Homo sapiens: one gene and its partner. The protein of the gene in region 1 interacts with the protein of each later gene in a pairwise test. Each region holds a gene or a part of one and is shown on either strand. Other genes may lie near its edges.

Evidence for each region. The genes of interacting proteins can lie anywhere in the genome.
Region 2: the proteins of CLDN11 (region 1) and SHISA3 interact in binary tests that used the Homo sapiens proteins (3 or more experiments, as listed by UniProt).

Annotation. Positions count from the first base shown.
Region 1 is NC_000003.12:170,414,914-170,421,894, reverse strand, and holds the start of CLDN11 (claudin-11), read right to left. Parts: upstream 3,028-6,981; 5' UTR 2,829-3,027; coding exon 2,603-2,828; intron 670-2,602; exon of another isoform or gene 558-669; intron 1-557. UniProt on the Homo sapiens protein: Plays a major role in tight junction-specific obliteration of the intercellular space, through calcium-independent cell-adhesion activity.
Region 2 is NC_000004.12:42,400,455-42,402,995, forward strand, and holds the end of SHISA3 (protein shisa-3 homolog precursor), read left to right. Parts: intron 1-557; coding exon 558-997; 3' UTR 998-2,033; downstream 2,034-2,541. UniProt on the Homo sapiens protein: Plays an essential role in the maturation of presomitic mesoderm cells by individual attenuation of both FGF and WNT signaling.

The DNA of each region.
Region 1 (6,981 bases):
TAGAGCAAAACTACATGAACTTTATCCTGTCAAGTAAAATGCCAAGTAAAAACTGTATTAAGAAACAGATTACAATATGTGTCACATTTATTTAGAATAAATCTGACAAGATACTGGGAGAATTTCACAGACAAATTTGTTTCACTTTCAAATGTAATGTTTCTCATTAAAACTCTCCCTCCTCTTAAAAAAGGTGGGGGGGGTCACATTTATTACCCTCCCTTTTTTGCTCAGAAGGAACTAGTACTAGTGGCCTGGGTGAGGCAGAGTTCATAGCAAAGCCAGGAATCTAGCCGACATCTGCCTCACACACCACGACCCTCACGTGCAAAAAGGCCTAACTTCAACGCTGTCTCTTAGCAAGGAACGTTTTGCCAGAATTCGGACTTCACAAGGGCCCTCTTCCAGCACTGCCCATCTCAGCTCCTTCAGAATTAAAGATAATCAGTCAAGTGTCTACTGACTTGAAGATCTCCAGAAAGGAGCTCCAGGAAGTCTGAGGCCCATCCCCTGACCCAGCCGTCCGCCTCTGCGGCTTGTAGAGAGCCAGTACTCACACAAAGCAGGCAGTCAACTGGCAATGCAGGTTCTGAAATCCATGGCACTGGCTGTCCACATGCTACAGTGCCAAGGCCATGTCCGGACACCAAAAGATAGGGACAGAGGACTGTTCCTGCCTCCACCCAAAGTATGAGGGAGGGGGAAGGCAGGAAGGACTAGCGCCGCCCCCCACCCCCCCCCCACCCCCAGAGTATGCACTCCCCTCTGGAGGACAGCCTTTGTTCTCTGAAAACAAACCACTTGGCACTGAATGCTCAGTAAAGTTAATTTCAGGAGAAGAAAACAAAGTTAATTTTATGCTTCAAAGATCCCTACAAATACCATGCCCAGCTTTTAATAAAATACTATAGGTACCATTCATGAAGCATCTACTATCTCAAAGGAGATTACATTTCTTATCTCATTTAATCCTCAAATAATCGTGAAAGATGGGTGGTTGATCTGATTTTAACTTTTAAAAGAAGACAACCGTGGTTCACTGAGGCTAGCAATTTGTCCCCCCTCACCCAGATTGTGAGTCCTGGATGCCGGAGGCTGGCCCGGGTCTGCCAACACCAGCATTAGCCAAAGCTGAGTCTAGATCTGCGTTCGTTGACCTCTGGCCTTCTGAAAGTTCAAAATGAAGGAAAGGATAGCGTAAGGCAAACCAGGCAAGCACTGCCCGCAGCTATTGTGTGCCAGAGGCCATGCCAGGTCCAGAAGAGGAAGCAAAGAGAATAACAGGACGCCATCTCTATCTTCAAGGAATTTAAAACGTAGTGGGAGAACTTCACTCACGAACAATCAACAAAAAACAAGATAAAATGTGCCTTTGTGAGGATAAGAGCCAAGTACTAGGCAGCAAGGAGAAAGGAGGGATTCAGATTCCGACTGCGAGGACCGGAAATAGGGCGTGCTTGGAGGAGGCTTAAGGGGCGAGCACAGTCTTATCTGACTGGCGGCTTCAGGGACAGGTTTCTCCCCATCTTGAGGAAACCGGGAAAATCCTTTAAGTGAGCACAATCCACGAAGGCTGGGGGACAGAAGCCCACCTTGTAGGGACATGCCTTGGGGGTAGAGCAGAGATTCCAGCAGAAAACCAAGGGGGTGCCCGCGACCTCGCCATTGCCCAACCCATTGGTTTAAATCTGAATTGAGGCTGTCGCCCAAAATGTTTCCACAGGACACATGTGAAAATGTGGCCCCTGGCCGGCGCTAGGCTGTCAATTTTTACCTCCCCTTCCCAATCTGAGACACGCTGGAGGGGTGGCGGCGAGCGACCCTCGGCGGCGCGCTCCGTATCTCCCCAGTGGAGTCCGCCCTCCGAGGAGCGCCCGCTCGTCCCTATCCAACCCAGCGGCGCGGAGCGGGAGCCGGCGTCACCGCAGCCCCGCAGTCTGACGCGCCCACAGCAGGGGCGGGGGTAGCGGGGGCAGCGGAGATGGCCCTGGGCACGTGCGGGAATCAACGTGACATTTCCCAAACCAGGCAGCCCAGAGAGCCCTGGACGTGAATTGCTCAGCGGCTGCGCGGACGGAGCTAGGAGGGCTCTAACCTGGCCGGGGGCGCTTCGCCCATCCCATGAGGACCGAGAAACTCAGCCTGAGCCGGTTCGATTCTCCTGTCAGCTTGTGTTACACGCTCCTTCTCACCTCTGCGGGCGGAACCTAACGCGAAGGCTCGGCGCCCCGGGGGAGGCCGGGCGGGAGCGGGAAGCACTTCGGGAAGCGGACGGTGGAAGGATGCGGGCTGGGACCGCAGTAATTAACACGGACTCAGTTCCTATTAGGTGTTCCGGTTTGTTCATTCTCAAAGGGACCCGGCCAGTGTTACCACCGGCCACATTGCCACTATTATCTCAAATTCCAGATAAGAATACTGCGGCCTAGAGAAGTTAAGTTCGGGGCTGCCTAATTCTTTTACAACAAGGTGGGACTAGGGATGTCAAAAACGTACCCAAAGGTCTTCAAGCCCCCAAAATGTCTCTGTGACGCCGTCTAATATCCCGCTCTCTACCCAGAGGATAAGGATTTGGGAGCCGCCGCCAAGCTCGGGTCCTTACCCGGCAGGATGAGGATGTCCACCAGGGGCTTGCAGTGGTACAGCCCCGTGGCCATGACGCAGTCGGCCCACAGCCCCTTGGAGCCCAGCTCATCCAGCTTGCGGCAGGTGGGGATGGTGTAGCCGCAGGTCACCACCCAGTCATTGGTGGAGGTGGTCACGATGACCCCGATCCAGCCCACGAAGCTCGTGACGAAGCCCACCACCTGCAGGCACGTGGCCACCATGGTGGCCGCCAGGATGTCCCCGTGCCTCGCCCCTCACGGCTGTGCCTGGGCCTGGGCTGGACAGTGCCTGCCCAGGTACGTCTCCCACGCTCGCGAGCCGCTGGAGGGCGACGGCCCGAGGCGGGACACTGGAGGTGGAGGTGGGCGCCGGAGGCTGCGAGCTCAGCGGCGAAGGGCGCACGGCGGGGACAGCAGCGCTGCTGGGCAGCGCGCCCCCGCCCCCTCTTTAAGCCCCGCGGCTCCGGCCGGCGAGCACCAATCGGCGGCAGCCCCGGGGCGCGCCGGCCAATCGCGGGGCGGGGCCGGGAGGGAAGCGTGAAGGGGAGCAGAGTAACCCCAGGGGGGCCATTGGGCCGCCCCACCCCGTCCGCAGCGCAGTCCGGCGATGCAAAGTAAAACAATTCCATCCAGGTCCAGAGAAACGGAGAGCGCAAAGAGGGCGTGCGTTTGTCGAGAGTTCTGTTTTCCTGCGACTGGTTTCTCTTCTTATAGCCCCTCTCTCATCTCAGTCTCTGGGTGTCCATTCCGCTCCGACCCTCCTCAGCTCCTCCCTGCTCGCTCCTTCTTCCCTGCTGCGAGCACTCCAAGGGCGCTCGGTACAGTCCCCCGACGACCCAGGATTGTGACAGACTGAAAAGTGCAGTAGGGACAAACGCGAGGCATTCAGTACACACAGTTACTAGAAGAAAGAAAACGATGCTTTTCAGTGGTTGAACATCATCAGCGGCAAACGTGGCCATAATAATCAACAATAGCAACTCACATTTATCGAGCTGTGTTATATATTATGCAGATGCATTTTACATGCATTAGCTCATTTAATCCTCATAACAGCCTTTGAGGTAGGAACAATTGTCAATGACACATACTAGGCCGGGAGTGGTGGCTCACACCTGTAATCCCAGAACTTTGGGAGGCCAAGGTGGGCGGATCACCTAAGGTCAGGAGTTCGAGACCAGCCTGACCAACATGGTGAAACTCCATCTCTACAGAAAATACAAAAATGAGCCGGGCATGGTGGCGCATGCCTGTAACCCCAGCTGCTTGGGAGGCTGAGGCAGGAGAATAACTTGAAGGAGGTTGCAGTGCGCCAAGATCGTGCCACTGCACTCCAGCCTGGGCAACTGAGTGAGACAACGTCTCAAAAGCAAACAACAACAACAACAACAAATTACACGCACTAGCCATAGAGAAACAGCACAAGAAGGTTGAGTTGCCCAAGTTCACGCAGCTAGGAAGGGGTAGATACCATGGGCCCATCTCATCCCTTTCACGAACTGTTTCTAGGAAACTGTCCTGATCAGTCTGAAAATTCCTAAGGGGTTCATGTGTCCCATTTTAGACGCATTAAAAGCTACAGCAGACTTCTCTGGCTCACTGTAAATAAATTAATATCTGTACCCCACTGAGAAAACTGCCTAGCCCAGAATGAGCGCTCTGATAGTGTAAAGCTATCATCATCACCATCAACATCATTAAGCCACCATGCATACAAATAGGCCGCATTATTTGCACCTTTTTATTCAGATAGGGAAGTCTTCCTTGAGCTGCATTTACATTCAACAGTTTTCACTCCCTTTGAAACATTTGGCTTATCTTATTATCTCCTTCTATCCATTCCCTTGGACCACTGCCTCCTCACCAATCATGAGACTTAAAGGTGTGAGGATTTCAGAAAGCACAAAAACTTCCTGCTCAGCGTTCTAAAATCTAAGATACTAACCATAAATCATAGGTACTGAGCTTTCCCAAAGCCAGCCCTAATGCTGGTTATCAGTGCAATCACCATGTCTTCTAGGAAAGCCTGGACTTGAGGAGACAATTACATTTCCCTGGAGACCCCAAGGAAATCAAGTGCACACACAGAAATGGCTCTTGTAATTGATAGCAGAGTGTCAAGTACAAGGGTCACAGTAATCACCCAGGAAGCACAGTGACTAAGAACACAGTCCAACTGCCCAAGTTCAAATCTTGGCTCCATCACTTTCTGGCTGTGAGACCAAGTTACTTTATCATTCTTGGCCTCCTTTTCTCATTTGTAAAATAAGGATGAAAACTGTACCTACCTCATAGACTTTTTTTTTTATTCTGTGAGCTATTAGGTTGGTGCAAAGTATTAAACATAACGGCAAAAACCACGATTACTTTTATACCAACCTAGTAATATATATGCAGAACTTAAAGTAACATTGGTACAAAGTAAGTATTCAGAAACCCCTGGCTAATGTGATGCTTCAGAACGTTGTTGTTGTTGTTGCCGTTGTTGTTGTTTTGAGACAAGATCTGTGTCACCCTGTCTACAGTTCAGTGGCGTGATCACAGCTCATTGTAGCCTTGAACCCCGGGACTCAAGTGATCCTCCCACCTCAGCCTCCTGAGTAGCTAGGACTACAGGCATGAGTCACTATGCCCAGCTAATCTTTCTTATTATTAGTAGAGAGAAGGTCTCACTATGTTGCCCAAGCTGGTCTTGAACTCCTGCGCTCAAGCAATTCACCTGCCTTGGCCTCCCAAAGTGCTGGGATTATAATAGGCATGAGCCAGCAGGCTTGGCCTGATTTTGCATTCTTATGTATCCTCCCTATATTCGTATGAGTTTGATTTGTGGAAACTATTCCATAGGAGTATGTTCTGAGTGAGCCATTGTGTTTGGGGGACGTTTCATCACCAGGGTCTATGGACTGAATGTTTTCAGATATTTCCTTATAACACTTTTTTAAAATGGCTTTTGTGCTAAATACAACATAAAACATAAAACCCAAGCAACATCAACTTCTTGTAAAAGCACTCATGGAATCTGCACTCTTATGCCTCCATTAGAATTTGACATTCGAACCATGAAACTTCAACCAATCAGAATATAATAATGCCCAGATCATCCACAGGTCACACACACATAGTGTTTGTAAAGCCAGATTTCAGAACTCAGGCACTAAATGGTAAAAAAAAAAAAAAAAAAAAAAAAAAATTGCCAAGTTGTTAAGATTGCTGTCTTGGACTGGGACCTCCTAGGTTCACATTCTGTCTTCACCACTTGAGCTGGCCCTTCACCTACGTGACTCTCAGGTTCTTCATGTACAAAGTGAGATAGTAAATGCCCCCTTAGGGCATGGTGAGGATCAAGTGAGATAATTTATATGAAGTACTCAGCATAGTGCCCAGCACTGCTGGACACTCATTCACATTAGACACTGTTAGAATGATTTATAGGAAGCGTAGATTAATTGGAAGTGGGAGTTCCCTTTGGTAGAGATACAAGCTAAATAATTAGGGTATTATTATTATCCAATGAAAGCAATTGTAAAGCCAGTGTCTAATCCATTCCAGCATAGATGTACAAAAGGCCACTTGAGGAGGCCACAAGATGTAACCTGTTTGAATTCATTAGCCCAAGGTAAAGAGAGGGCTTGTCCCTTCAAAAGGAAGGCAGGAAGCCATGGAAGCAAAGAGAACTGGGGGCCAAGAGGCAGAGAGACGCAATGGGAATCCTTGACTATTTTCAGAGTCTGTGGCTCACAGACTCTGAGGATGCGGTGCCATTAGCAAGGCTCTGTAGGGTGGGGAAGTCCCTCAAGCTATCTTAGCTGAGACTTTTGCTAAAATCATCCACATTGCGGCCAGGCACAGTGGCTCACCCCTGTAATCCCATCACTTTGGGAGACCAAGGCGGGTGGATAACGAGGTCAGGAGTTCGAGACCAGTCTGGCCAACATGGTGAAACCCCGTCTCGGGGTTTCAAAATTATACAAAAATTAGCTGGGCGTGGTGGCAGGTGCCTGTAATCCCAGCTACTCAAGAGGCTGAGGCAGGAGAATCTCTTGAACCTGGGAGGCGGAGGTTGCAGTGAGCCGAGATCGTGCCATTGCACTCCAGCCTGGGTGACAAGAGCAAGACTCCATATCAAATATATATATATATATATATATACAAAATTAGCCAGGCATGGTGGCACATGCCTGTAATCCCAGCTACTCAGGAGGCTGAGGCAGGAGAATCGCTTGAACCCGGGAGGCGGAGGTTGCAGTGAGCCGAGATCATGCCATTGCACTCCAGCCTGGGCAACAAGAGCAAACTCTGTCTCAAAAAAAAAAAAAATATCATCCACATTGCTTGGCTGTGGCTCTCCTCCCAAACCCTCTTTGTGATTAAGACC
Region 2 (2,541 bases), on another chromosome or scaffold:
ATTGGGGCCCTCTGTGAATTTCTTTATACTGTTCTTTCTGGAGTCTCATAAAATCCTGGGTCTGTGTGTAGAGGGGAATCTCATTTAATAGGCCTGGCTCCCTTTGCTTAGACTGGAGATTATTGAATGGGAGATGGATTGCCAGCCTAAGAGAGGGGACAAGTCTCTTACTGCTCACCGTGATCAAACTACTAAAACCTGCATTTAAACCTAGAATTATTTTAACCCCTAAAACTCACCCTTTCCCTCTAGTGCCTGAACAGGAGAACAGATTCCGTTTTTTTTTTCTGACTTCCAGATGTGCAATATGATAGTTAATTGCTAACAGAGGCTACGGTATCCGTTTGCTTCCTCCCTGCTAGGAGTAGCGAGAATATTCCATCATCACGGTTTGCATTGCATTTTGGAGGTTACCATTAACAAGCTCTGAAAAACTGAGCTGACAGCAGTGATAGTAACTGAGTCTCCCACCTCTCAACCCTCAGCTGCCCAAGCAGAGTTCAGAATCTGGGAGATCCTCATCTGAGCATCTGTTTATGTCTGTTTTTGCCTTTTAGAGCCTGTCTACGTCCCCTTTCTCATCGTCGGCTCCATCTTCATTGCGTTCATCATCCTGGGCTCTGTAGTGGCTATTTATTGTTGCACCTGTTTGAGACCCAAGGAGCCCTCGCAGCAGCCAATCCGCTTCTCACTCCGCAGCTATCAGACAGAGACCCTGCCCATGATCCTGACCTCCACCAGCCCCAGGGCACCCTCCCGGCAGTCCAGCACAGCCACGAGCTCCAGCTCCACAGGCGGCTCCATCCGCAGGTTCTCCTTTGCCAGGGCTGAGCCGGGCTGCCTGGTGCCCTCACCGCCCCCGCCATACACCACCAGCCACTCAATCCACCTGGCTCAGCCATCTGGTTTCCTGGTGTCACCCCAGTATTTCGCTTACCCCCTCCAGCAGGAGCCCCCACTGCCTGGGAAGAGCTGTCCAGACTTCAGTTCCAGTTGACACGCCCAGGCCATGAATCCACAACTCAGTCAGATGGCAGACAGGTGGAGCCCTGCTCCCATTGCCACATGCAATTCTGAGAAAATTTCCCTTGTAACTGATCAGTGTCATGGAGGAGCATGCTAGGAAAACACAGCACCTTCTAATTTGAAAGTTCCTGTCTCCAATCACAGAAAGGCTAAACCAGAGAACTGTTTTCTGGTTTTGCAAACATGTGATCATTACATTTCAATCTATGCTACTTTTATTCAAAATATGCAGCAGTTTGACTTTAAAGTTGCAAACTGGCTAAAAACGTTTTACTGGACATTCAGCTATATTGCTTAGAAAAGGGCTACATGTTTCTTTTTCATATAAGTTGTTCATTGAGTTATGATAGGAATATATTCATAAATAAGCAAAGAAAAATACCTAATTGTAATTATCAAAGGTTCACTTAAAAAATTAACTATTAGGTAAACTTAAGGGGGCAGTGAAAAATCTATTTATGATTTCGGGAGTAACCTAACCATGAATAATATTAGCATAATGAGAACATTTACTTTTTAAATAAATAACTAAATTTTGTTTACAATATGAGTTTTTCCAGAATACAAGGTTTCAATAATCACATGAGGAGTTTAAAGTTTTAAATATATACTCAGACATTCATTGTAACACAGAGTGTATGTAAAATCATTTCCCCCACTCACTGGAGGGAGTATTTATTGCAGACTTTTTGTTCAGCAACATTTAGTGTTTCAGTGAAAGTTGGACAGTTGGGGCTTAAAACATTTATTTGTAAAATGAGCTATGTTCAAATGTAAATATTTGTAATTTAATGTATTTACCACATTGACTGTACTAATTATTTAGTAGTCATACTGTAATTTTTATGTTAATAATAACTGGAGTTCAAAGTCTAGCTATTGGTATAATCATCTAATATTATATATATCTCCAGTGCCCCTGAATTTTATGTTTGATGACTATATATTTGGGCATATATCTTGTTGGATTAGAATAAATAAAACACTTTATATTTTCATGAACTCTATTTAAATTTTAATGTGATTCATTTTATCTCTTTAGCGATCCTTCTTTAAAAAAAAGGAAATGTTTTTAACACATACTTCATATTTTAAAATTAAAAAAAAATTCCATATCAGGGCTCGTGAAAGCAGCAAAGGAAGTGAATTTTTATGGAGGTCTCAGTCTACAGCCCTCCGATGTGTTTGGCCTGTAGAGAATTCATCATTAGGACGTTTCTCATAAGAATCTGGATTTCTGGCTTCTCATGACATAGAGGACGTGGCACCAGGGGTCCTGCACTGCCTTGGGGTCAGGTCAATCCTCTTCAGACAGGACACCTGCCATTTGCCAGCCTCCTGCCTGGTCTCCCCACCTGGCCCATCTATTTTTGCTATGCTACCTACCTGGCCCCTGCAGGTGTGGTTTGAAAGCCCAGATTTATAGGAATTCATACTATCATATGTCACTCTCAGTTTTCAAACACAATTAGTTAGAGGCAGAATTCTGTCCTAAGAGAGTTGTTTGGCCTTGTC